Linked DNA regions of Homo sapiens: all the other regions are linked to region 4. Evidence: fine-mapped expression QTL. A gene starts in region 4. Each other region holds a variant in brackets. All regions are shown on one strand. Distances are between the middles of the regions. Region 1 has its middle 20 kb from the start of GAA. Region 2 overlaps CARD14 (caspase recruitment domain family member 14). Region 3 has its middle 19 kb from the start of EIF4A3. Region 4 holds the start of GAA (alpha glucosidase).

What was found. PIP is the estimated chance that this variant, and not a neighbour inherited with it, causes the effect.
Region 1: its variant is fine-mapped to the expression of GAA in nasal epithelium (TOPMed, PIP above 0.99).
Region 2: its variant is fine-mapped to the expression of GAA in lung (TOPMed, PIP above 0.99). The same link has a PIP of 0.9 or more in blood mononuclear cells.
Region 3: its variant is fine-mapped to the expression of GAA in monocytes (Fairfax 2014, PIP 0.95).

What each region holds. Positions count from the first base shown.
Region 1 is chr17:80,120,345-80,122,950 of GRCh38, reverse strand. No RefSeq gene overlaps it. Among named protein-coding and RNA genes, the nearest start is that of GAA, 20 kb to the right of the region's middle. The variant G/A (reference allele first, on the strand shown) is at 1,245.
Region 2 is chr17:80,203,496-80,206,231 of GRCh38, reverse strand. It overlaps CARD14 (caspase recruitment domain family member 14), which reads right to left. Exons shown (of 24, transcript NM_001366385.1): 19 at 2,347-2,410; 20 at 1,891-2,005; 21 at 1,027-1,197; 22 at 580-701. It also overlaps a transcript of SGSH not described here. Among named protein-coding and RNA genes, the nearest start is that of SGSH, 15 kb to the left of the region's middle. RefSeq lists an enhancer at 447-1,646. The variant C/T (reference allele first, on the strand shown) is at 1,244.
Region 3 is chr17:80,127,052-80,129,787 of GRCh38, reverse strand. No RefSeq gene overlaps it. Among named protein-coding and RNA genes, the nearest start is that of EIF4A3, 19 kb to the left of the region's middle. The variant A/C (reference allele first, on the strand shown) is at 1,033.
Region 4 is chr17:80,100,392-80,103,008 of GRCh38, reverse strand. It overlaps GAA (alpha glucosidase), which reads right to left and starts at 1,428. Exons shown (of 20, transcript NM_000152.5): 1 at 1,119-1,428. CCDC40 (coiled-coil domain 40 molecular ruler complex subunit) reads right to left here. Exons shown (of 20, transcript NM_017950.4): 20 at 2,396-2,617. RefSeq lists an enhancer at 822-931 and a silencer at 1,262-1,881.

The DNA of each region.
Region 1 (2,606 bases), 20 kb before region 4:
AGATCCAATTAGCCAGGCATGGTGGCGGATGCCTGTAATCCTAGCTCCTCGGGAGGCTGAGGCAGGAGAATCACTTGAACCTGGGAGGCAGAGGTTGCAATAAGCCAAGATTGCACCATTGCACTACAGCCTGGGTGACAAGAGTGAAACTCGGTCTCAAAAAAAAAAAAAAAAAAAAAGTGGTGGGGCTGTTGGGAGGTGATGAGTCCTGAGGGCCCTCCATCCTCATCAGTGGCATTTAGCGCTCAAGGGAGCTTGTCTTCGCCTTCTACCACGATGATGGAGAGTGCGCCATTTATGATACAGACAGCAGCCCTCACCAGACACAGAACCTGCCTCGATCTTGGACTTCCCAGCCTCCAGCCCTGTGAGAAATCCATTTCTGTTGTTTATAAATTACCCAGTCTTGGGTATTTCGTTACAGCAGCCAAGGAAGGGTCAGATCCTACAAGGGGCTAAGGCTACAGTGGCCCTGCCAGGCTGGGCGGTGGCACAGAAGGTGAGGACGCTGATGGTCGGTCCAGGCTGGCCGAGGCTACCACGCTCCATCAACCCTCCCTGAACGTCTTGGGTGTCAACTGCAGACCTGGCGAGCCTGGCAGAGCGTTAGGGCAGGTCGCCCTCAGCACCGAGACCAGGCACGCTGCTGGCCTCAAGACAAACATTCCTGCTTCTTAACCCCACATGGGACTAGGATGAGGGGAGGAAGTAACATATGTTATTGTCACTACTACGTCCACCTTACAGAGGAACTTTAGGGCGCGAGATGACTTAGTGATGTCAATCTGGATGGTAAAAGTGGCACACGGGGGTCAGGCCCTGGCCTGTGACATGGCAGAAGAGCAGTGTCCGCTTCTACAAAAGCTGACCCAGAAGACAATAGTGCTGGTCACCCAGGTAGACACACTGCCCCCCAGGGATGTCATGCTGCTCCACGGGGAAGTCACTGTACTTTCTGCTCCTGGTTTTCAGGAAGGTGGCAAAAGTAATCCATCGCTCTGCAGAGGACTTCGGGGTTGGCCACTTCTTTTGTTTTTTTTTTGAGATGGAGTCTCACTCTGTCGCCCAGGCTGGACTGCAGTGGCGTGATCTCAGCTCACTGCAGCCTCCGCCTCCCAGATTCAAGCAATTCTCCTTCCTCAGCCTCCTGAGTAGCTAAGATTACAGGCGCGTGCCACCACACCCAGCTAATTTTTGTATTTTTAGTAGAGATGGGGTTTTGCCACGTTGGTCAGGCTGGTCTC[G/A]GACTCCTGGCCTCGTGATCCGCCTGCCTTGGCCTACCAAAGTGCTGGAATTGCAGGCATGAGCCACCGCGCCTGGCCTTTTTTTTTTTTTTTTTGAGATGGAGTCTCACTCTGTCGCCCAGGCTGGAGTGCAGTGGCACGATCTTGGCTCACTACAACCTCTGCCTCCCGGGTTCAAGTGATTCTTGTGCCTCAGCCTTCTGAGTAGCTGGGACTACAGGCACACACCACCATGCCTAATTTTTTTTTTTTTTGAGACAGTCTCGCCCTGTCATCAGGCTGGAGTGCAGTGGTGCTATCTCGGCTCACTGCAACCTCCGCCTCCCGGGTTCAAGCGATTCTCCTGCCTCAGCCTTGCGAGACCAAGTAGCTGGGACTACAGGTGTGTGCCACCACACCCAGCTAATTTTTGTATTTTCAGTAGAGACGGGGTTTCACCATGTTAGCCAGGATGGTCTCCATCTCTTGACCTCGTGATCCGCCTGCCTCAGCCTCCCAAAGTGCTGGGATTACAGGCGTGAGCCACTGCGCCTGGCCTTAATTTTGTATTTTTAGTAGAGATGGGGTTTCACCATGTTGGCCAGGCTGCTCTCAAACTCTTGACCTCAAGTGAGCTGCCCGCCTGGACTTCCCAAAGTGCTGGGATTACAGGTGTGAGCCACTGCATTAATTCTAAGTGATAAACTGAAGCGTCTGACTGGCTAAGGGCAGTGATTTCTCCTGCTGTTATTTCAATAAAATGGGCTTCTTTCCCTTTCTCTGGGCTTGCCAGGGAGAACCTGGGCCTGAAATCCTCTCTAACTGCATCACTTGGGGACAGATTTCTGGCCTCTGCCTAAAGTCTTAGGCCCCACTGTTGGAAAGCCCCTTCCTTGCAGGGTCCTGTTGTCTACACAGCCCTGGGGGCCACACTCCCACCACATGCCTAACACCCACTGGACATTCCCCAGTCACCTTAGAGATGGGGGAAGCAGGAGTGTGAGGATGAATGGGGAGAGGAGGAGAGGAGGTGAGGAGGGGAGAGGGGGTGAGGTGGGGTAGGGAGGGGAGGTCAGGTGAGGGGAGGAGGGGAGGGGAGGAGGGGAGGGGAGGTGCGGTGGGAGGGGAGGAGAGATGACATAGGGAGGGGAGGTCAGGTGAGGAGGGGAGGTGAAGTGGGATGGGGACGGGAGGTTGGGAGGGGAGGAGAGGTGACATGGGAAGGGGAGGTCAGGTGAGGAGGGGAGGGGAAGGGAGGTGGGGTGGGAGGGGAGGTGGGGAGGGAAGGGGAGGTGACATGGGGAGGGTAGGTGAGGAGTGGAGGGGAGGGGAGGTGGGGAGGGGAAGGGAGGTGACATGGGAAGGGGAGGGGAGGTGAGGTGG
Region 2 (2,736 bases), 100 kb before region 4:
CGGGTTCCCAAAGTGCTGGGATGACAGGCGTGAGCCCCAGGCCCAGCTGAGTTTGCCACTTTCTAAATGAGGCTGTGTGCTATGCAGTATTAAGAGTTTCCATCCCTTTGATTTTTCACTGGGAAAATCTAGAAATTGTGAGCTCTGGGGATGAGGTGAACTTGGCATGGAGCTCCGCCAGCCCCTACAGGAGGCACGCAGATGCCAGACTCGGCTTCCCGTGCCTGTGCAGACACAAAGCTGTGGTTCACGGGGAGCTGCTTTTCACGCGTTTGCGCCTTCAAACGTGGAGAGTGTTGTTAGCTCGGATTTATTCATTCTCGAACAAATATCTATTAAACATCCCCCAAGCTGAGGAAACTGAGATTCAAGGAGTTGGGAGACCTCACCCACAGTCACGTGGATCCTAACTGGCTGAGATGAGTTTTGGGCTCCTGCTGGGCTGTTGGGACCCAGAGGTCGGCGACAAGGTCACCCAGGTCTCAGGTCGGTCCCTGTACCTTTATCTCATCCCCCTCCTCTGCATTCCTGAAACCCTTCCCAGGACAGCTCCCCTGCCCACCCCGCCCTTGACCTCACCTTTTCCATGAGGGACTCCACAGCATGGCGGGTCACCCAGCAGCGGCCCCCGGACACCTCTCCCTCCTGGATGATGTCCCCTCTCTGGCTCCAGGCCTCATACTCCTCCTGGCTCAAGTACTCTACAGGTGACATTGGACGGGGCCATCATAGACCAGCTGTGTGGGGGTCTGGGGGAGTCCCATGGTAAACACCCCTGTCCCCGTGAACCCTGCCAGCACTGGGAGAAGCTCTTCTTAGGATGTCCACTTTACAAACCTGACCCTGCACACCCCGCTCTGTGCCCTGCACCTCCATCCTGAACTATCTGGACACAGCAGGTGAGTGTGGGAATGTGCGTGGTGGGGGAGGGAAGGAGGAGGGAGGAAGGGGAGGAAGGAGGGAGGAAGGGGAGGAGGGAGGGAGGGAAGGTGGAAGGGGTAGAGGGATTCCCAGGCAACAGCATACCTGCCAGGCACTTCTTAAACCCTTGGAGGAGGCACAGTTTCTCGCTCAGGATCTTCCCAACCGCCCTGGGCACGAGGAGCACAGGCCGGGGCCGGGCGGGTCGATGGGGCCGCACCAGGGTATAGGGCACCAGGGTGAGGCAGCTCTCGGCCCAGAAGCACGTGCTGGAGCCTGTGGAGGAGAGGATCCTGAGGGTGGGTGAGGCTGCGGCAGCCCC[C/T]AGCCAGCCTACCCTGCCCCGGGAGGGACTGGGTCTGCTTTGCTCACTGCAGCAGCCCCAGCACCTAGAATTCCAGGGGCACAGGCTCAGCGGTCACAGGACTCACTCCCAGTTCCATAGCCCCTGGCTGAGCGGCTCCTTTGCACGGGGGTTACACAGCTCTGTGGCTCTCCAGGGACTGCTTTGCAGCCTGCAACTTAATCCTGTTTCCTATAGGCCCAAGGGAGGATGGCGGAAGCCAGGGTTTTCTTCCTTCCAAAGGATCTGGGAGAGTGGCACCCTTCTCCTCAGCCATCCTCCAGGGCACAGGGTCCTAGCCCTCCCTCTGTCCTGTACTCCTCTCCTGAAATTTTTTTTTTTTCCTGAGACAGAGTTTTGCTCTTATTGCCCAGGCTGGAGTGCAATGGCACCATCTCGGCTCACTGCCACCTCTGCCTCCCGGGTTCAGGCGATTCTCCTGCCTCAGCCTCCCGAGTATCTGGGATTACAGGTGTGCGCCACCACACCCAGCCCCATGATTCTTGAAGACCAGATCCTGGCCTAAATGAGTGGCATCCCCCTGCCCCAGCTGACCAACTAGCAGCAGCTCCCAAAGCCCCTCACCCACTTGGAGCCAGTGGCCCCTGTGCCAGCTCACCAGGCCTCACCCTCCATCCTGCTGGGGTCCAACTGGCCCCTGTCAAAGGACAAACGCAGAGGGCTGGCCTTGGCTTTGTCCATACTGACGATGCGGACCAGCTTCTGTGGTCCCCCAGAAGATGGCTAAAGGAGGGACAGAGAAAGGATGAGGAGGAGCTGTTGAAGCCATCAACAGGAATGGGAATTCAGGGGAGATGATTGGCACTAGGGCGACCTGGGAGTGATGCAGAGGCGCAGATGCTCTGAGAACAGCCTGAGGTGTGTCTGCACTTGTGCAAGAGCCTGCAGGCTGGGCAGGGGCTGCAGACCCTGCCCTGGTTTGAAGGGGTGCAGAGGAGAGACAGGTGGGGTTACCCTCCAATCAGCAGCCCACTCTCCACACAGTGCCTCCTGCCACCCTGCCAGCACCGAGCCCCTCTTCCAGCCCACCCCAGTGGGGTCCAGGCCCCTCCCTGGAGCCTCACCTTGCGGGTCACGGTGCACTGCTGAGTCATGTCCTGGATGAGGGCTATGAGCTGCTGCTGAGCCCTGCAGAGACCAGCAGAGGCCCTGACCCAGCTGCCTCCTGCCAGGTGAGCAGGGCAGGGGAGAGCCGAGCAGGGGAGAGTGGGGGAGATGGCCGGGTGGGAGAGAAGGGCCTCCACCTAGAGCTCCACACATCCCTTTGCTGCAGGCTGGAGCGCTCCATCCTGGCGGCCATGCCAGTCTCCAGAGCTTTCAAAAGACTCCAGGGCCTCGGCCCACCCCTGGAGATGCTGATTTACTTGTCCTGGGGCGGGACCCAGGGGGTGCTGTTGAGCAGCCAGCGTACAGGGCCCCACTCCAGGACCTCAATATTCATGGTGGGTCCCTGG
Region 3 (2,736 bases), 27 kb before region 4:
ACCTTGTGAAAAAGGTTCCTGCTTCGTCTTCGCCTTCCACCATGATTGTAAGTTTCCTGAGGTCTCCCCAGCCACACTGAACTGTGAGTCAATTAAACTTCTTTCCTTTTTAAAGCACCCGGGCTCAGGCAGTTCTTTATAGCAATATGAAAATGGACTAATATACTGCTCTGCAGTGTTTAGGAGAATGTGGAGAAACTGGAACCCCCATACATTGCTAGTGGGATTGTAAACAGGCACAGCCTTTATGGAAAACAGCTTGGCAGTTCCTCAAAATGTTGAACATAGGAGTTGACCTAGCAATTCTCCTCCTAGGTCTATACTCAAGAGAATTAAAAAATCTGCACACATAAACCTAATGTGTTCATAGCATTGTTCATAAGAGCCAAAAAGTGGACACAAGCCAGATGTTCATCAGCTGTAAGCAAAACTGGTGAATCCACACAATATTACTTGGCAATAAAAAGGCATGAAGTGCTGACACACTACAACCTGGATGAACCTCGGCAATATGCTAGGTGGAAGAAGGCAGACACAAAAGGCCACACGTGGTGTGATTCCATTTACATGAAACGTCCTGAACAGGTAGATCCATAGAGAGATTAGCAGGAAACCATTCACAGTGGTTTCAGGAGCTTGAGGGGGGAGGAGGGGGATGGGTGAAACAAGGAGTGGCTGAAAATGAGTATAGGGTTTCTTTTGAAGGTGATTCTAATGTTCTGGAATTAGATAATCGTGATGGTTGTACAAGTGTACTAACAACTGAATTGCATACTTTAAAATGGTAAATGTTATGGCATGTGAATTACATCTCAGCACAAATATCATGAGGAATCTCATGCATCCTCTAAAATTACACTTAAAAAGCAAAAAGCACGAGCAAGGGAAAACAAGCAAATTGCCTACTGCAAAATTAAAAGACAGATATTGTTAGGCTGGATTATAAAGCCATACACAACTATATACTATTGCTTATGAGAAATATAAAGACAAAAGTGAAAAGATGGAGAAAAATACACCATGGTAACGCAC[A/C]CATCAAAATAAACCTGAAGCAGCTCTATTAATATTAGACAAAGGAGATCTCAGAGCAAAGAATATTGCAAGGGACAAAGAGAGTCATTTGATAATGATAAAGGGGTAATTCATTAAAAGGATATAACAATACTAAATACCTATGCACCTAATAACAGCTTCAAAATACAGGAAATATAGGAAGGAAAAATGGATAAAACTGCAAGGGGAAATAGACAAATCCACAGTGGCAATTGGGGCTTTCAGTAACCCTCTCAGGAACAAGGCACAGGTGTCCTCTCCCTTCTGTTCAATATTACACTGTGGATTCTGGCCAGTGCAACAAGGCAAGAGAAAGAAAAGGCCTCCAGGGTGGAAAGGAAGAAGGCTTTCTTCACAGATTATATGTTTCTCTATGTAGAAAATCCTAAGGAGTCTACCACAAAGCTACTGGAACTAATAATTGAGTTTCGGGAAGGTAGCATTCTACAAAGTCAATATAGAAGAGTCAGTTGTATTCCTATATGCCAGGAATGAACACTTGGAATGGGAAATTTGGAAAACACCACCATATACAGTACCATCAAATACATGAAATACTTGGGGGTATATTTGACAAAAGATGAGCAAGCTCTGTAATTGAAAGCTACAAAACGTTGCTGTGAGAATTAAAGATGTAAATAAATGAGAGATACACTGAGCAGATTGGAAGAGTCGATATTGTTAAGACATCAGTTCTCCCCAGGTTGATGTACAGACTCAACACAATTCCAACCAAAATATCAGGAAGCCTTTTTTGGGAGAGTGGGGATAGGGCTAAACATTGACAAGCTAGTTCTAGAAGTTATATGAAAATACAAAGGATCTAGCATAGCCAAAACAACTTTGGAAAAGTGCACCAAGCTACTACTCATACCAAGAAATATTATAAAGCTACAGTAGCAAAGGCAGTGTGGTATAGTCATAAATATAGACCTGTTGTAGATCCAGGGAAAACAGTAGAAAGTTCAGAAAGACTACACATTTATGGTCAATGGATTTCCAACAAAGGCACTTAAGCAGTTTTATGGGGAAAGCATAATGATTTTTGGTTGTGTGTGTGTGTGTGTGTGTGTGTGTGTGTGTGTGTGTGTTTTTGAGATAGTCCAGCTCTGTCACCCACACTGGAGTGCAGTGGCCACAGTTATAGCTTACAGCAGCCTCGACCTCCTGAGATCAAGGAATCCTTCCACCTTAGCCTCCTTAGTAGCTGGAACCACAGGCATGTGCTGCTGCATGCATCTAATTTTTTATTTTTTTATTTTTAGTTTTTAAATTTATTTATTTTGAGACAGAGTCTCACTCTGTCACCCAGGCTGGAGTGCAGTGGCACGATCTCAGCTCACTGCAAGCTCCACCTCCCGGGTTCACACCATTCTCCTGCCCCAGCCTCCCGAGTAGCTGGGACTACAGGCAGCCGCCACCACGCCCGGCTAATTTTTTGTATTTTTAGTAGAGACGGGGTTTCACCGTGTTAGCCAGGACGGTCTCGATCTCCTGACCTCGTGATCCACCCGCCTCGGCCTCCCAAAGTGCTGGGATTACAGGCGTGAGCCACCGCGCCCGGCCTAATTTTTTGCTTTTTGTAGAGATGGGGTCTTGCTGTGTTGCCCAGGCTGGTCTCTAACTCCTGCTCAAGAACTCCTCCTGTCCCGGTCTCCCAGTGTTGGGATTACAGGCAGGAGC
Region 4 (2,617 bases):
CACACTTCTGACATTAAATGTGTAGGGTTTTTCTCACACCCATCAATTCTGCAACTTTCTGGACACGGCTGGGTGTCCTACAATTCAATTCAATCTTGACACTACCTGGAGTCAGCACAGACTCCACAGGTTAAGGGCTCAGTCCCACAACACTGCCTTCACTTCAGAGGCCAATGGCAAATCCCAGGTTGTCACTTGTACTTTCGATCAACTAGTTATAAATTCAGAGGTTCCCAGGACTCCCTCTTCAGGGTCACAGAACTCAGGAAAGTGCGTTTCTTACAGTTGCTGGTTTATTACAAAGGATAAAACTCAGACAGCCGTATGGAAGAGATGCGTAGGGCCTGGTGTGAGGTGGGGGCAGTGATGCTGTGCTCTCTGCTCGCACCACCCTCCAGTGCCTTGGTGTGTTCCACAACCCGGCGGGAAGCCCTCTGATCCCTGTGGTTTCTTACGGGGTTCCATTGTGCAGGCATGGTTGACTAAGCCACTGGTGATTCACTCAATCTCCAGCCCCTCACCCCTTTTCCATCCCAACCCGTCATCAGGCCTTGGTCTTTCTGGCCATCTGCTTCCATCCTGAAGCCACCTGGTGTCCCCGGTCATCAGTCACCTCATGAGCAAAAGGCTCTCTCATCACTCGGTTTCCAAGGGTTTCGGGTGCTATGTGCCAGCAACCAGGGACAAAGACCAGAGACAGTCACCCCTGGCCTGGCCTAAGGGGGTCTTTGTGATTGAGACATTCAGATTTCAGAGCTGGCCCAGGGGCCCCCTCTCAGGCCACGGTGCTCCTCACCCCAGGGATTCAGACCCAGCCATGTGCGTCCTGCAGGAGCAGGAGAGGTGGCTCGGGTCCCGGCCAGGACTGAGCACTGCGTCGATCAAAAGGGGAAAGGAAACCCTAGAAACGGGAAGATGCAGCCTCCAGCCCCAAGCCCAGCACAGGAGGGCGGCTCCCCGTTCATCTCTAAGCTGAACTCAGATAAAGACCGGGAGGACTAGAGGTCTGGGGCTCAAGCTCCGCTCAGGGGAAGAGGCTGGGGGCACGGCTAGGCACGTTCAAACCCGCTTCTGGGATGTTACCGCCGGCAGCGCGGGGCAGACGTCAGGTGTCTCACCCGCTCCGTGCCTCAGTTTCCCCGTCAGCTGCGGCACGCGCAGAGCCTCCCTCGCTGAACAACGGGCGGACGAGGAGAACCTAGAGGTGGCCGGGGTCCTTCGCGTCACCGAGGTCACTGTCCTACCTGCTGCCTCATCCCCGACCTCCACCCGCGGCCCCGGCGACAACCTCAGCTTTCCCAACTGAGAGGCCGCGCGGGCAGCCGACCGCCCCACCGACCCGGCCCGCGCTCAGGGAAGCCCCGCAGCCCCGGCCCGGCTCACCTCCGCGCACGCGCGCCCTGGCCGCCCGCGGAGACTCCGGGGTCGTGCCCGGGGGCGCGCAGAGGCGGGTCACGTGACCGGCGGGAGCTCGTCGCGGGGCGGGGCCGCGGTGGGTCACGTGACGCGGCCTCCCGCGCAGGCGCCCGAGGCAAGGGTGCGCGTCCGCGCTACGCCCCCCAGTGGCGGCTCCGGCAGAGCGGGCCTGGGCGCGTCCTCGCTCTCGGAGGGGGCCTGGGGAGCGCGTCTGGCTGCGCGTCCGGCGTCCCGCGGGGAGAGGCCCACGCGTGCTGCCCGCTGCCGGTTCCTCTGGGGTCAGAGACGGGGCGAGGCCCCCGCTGGCGCAGTCCCGGCCCGGTCCCCGTGGGGTCGGAGATGGGGCGTGGCCCCCGCTGCCCCGGCCTGGGTCCCCGCAGCTCGTAGGGCTTTGTAAGGGGCTGGCCCAGCCGCGCCTTGCGCCCAGGGATTCCTCCTGCCAACGCGTCCCGAGGGCATCATCGGAAAGGCGGCCAAAGGCGCTCAGCGCCAAGTTAGAAACAGCCAACATTTGGAAAGTCCTTAAGTGTGCTCCATAACTCACAGTTATTCCAGAAAGGAATAATCAAAACATTGTGATAACCCATAAAACTGACAATTGAGAAAACATTAAACTGACACAGGGGGAATTTTTTCATAAAATGAGAAAATGCTTACATTAAGAGGAGCACATTTTTACATGTGAGATACAAAAAACACACAGTATAACCTTAACTTGCCTAATAAAATGTATGTGCAGAAAAATACAAAAGGAGCCACACCAAAACACAGAGGTGTTGTTCCTGGGTAGGGGCATAGGGGCATTAAAAGCCCCCTTTCCAGCTTGCAGCGAGCCGAGACCGCGCCACTGCACTCCAGCCTGGGCGACAGAGCGAGACTCCGTCTCAAAAAAAAAAAAACAAAAGCCTCCCTTCCACCTCTGTTGTGGTTTCTGTATTTCTACAATGTTTTAAAATAAGTAAGGCTGACTCAGAAAGGCTTACTAGATATTCAGAAAAAAGATTTTATTCTTCTGCTGAAATGTTTGAAAGTGAAATTATTTTGTAGAGCATTTTCCCTTTAAACTGCAAAGAAGCCCCAAGGTCATTGGTACTTGGAAGTCCAGGGAGAAAGAGCGCTGGGTTAATGATGGAGAAAAGATAGGTGGGCAGACTGGGGCGTAGTCCCTTGGTGTGGACGCCCCAGCGTGCTCTTATTTCAG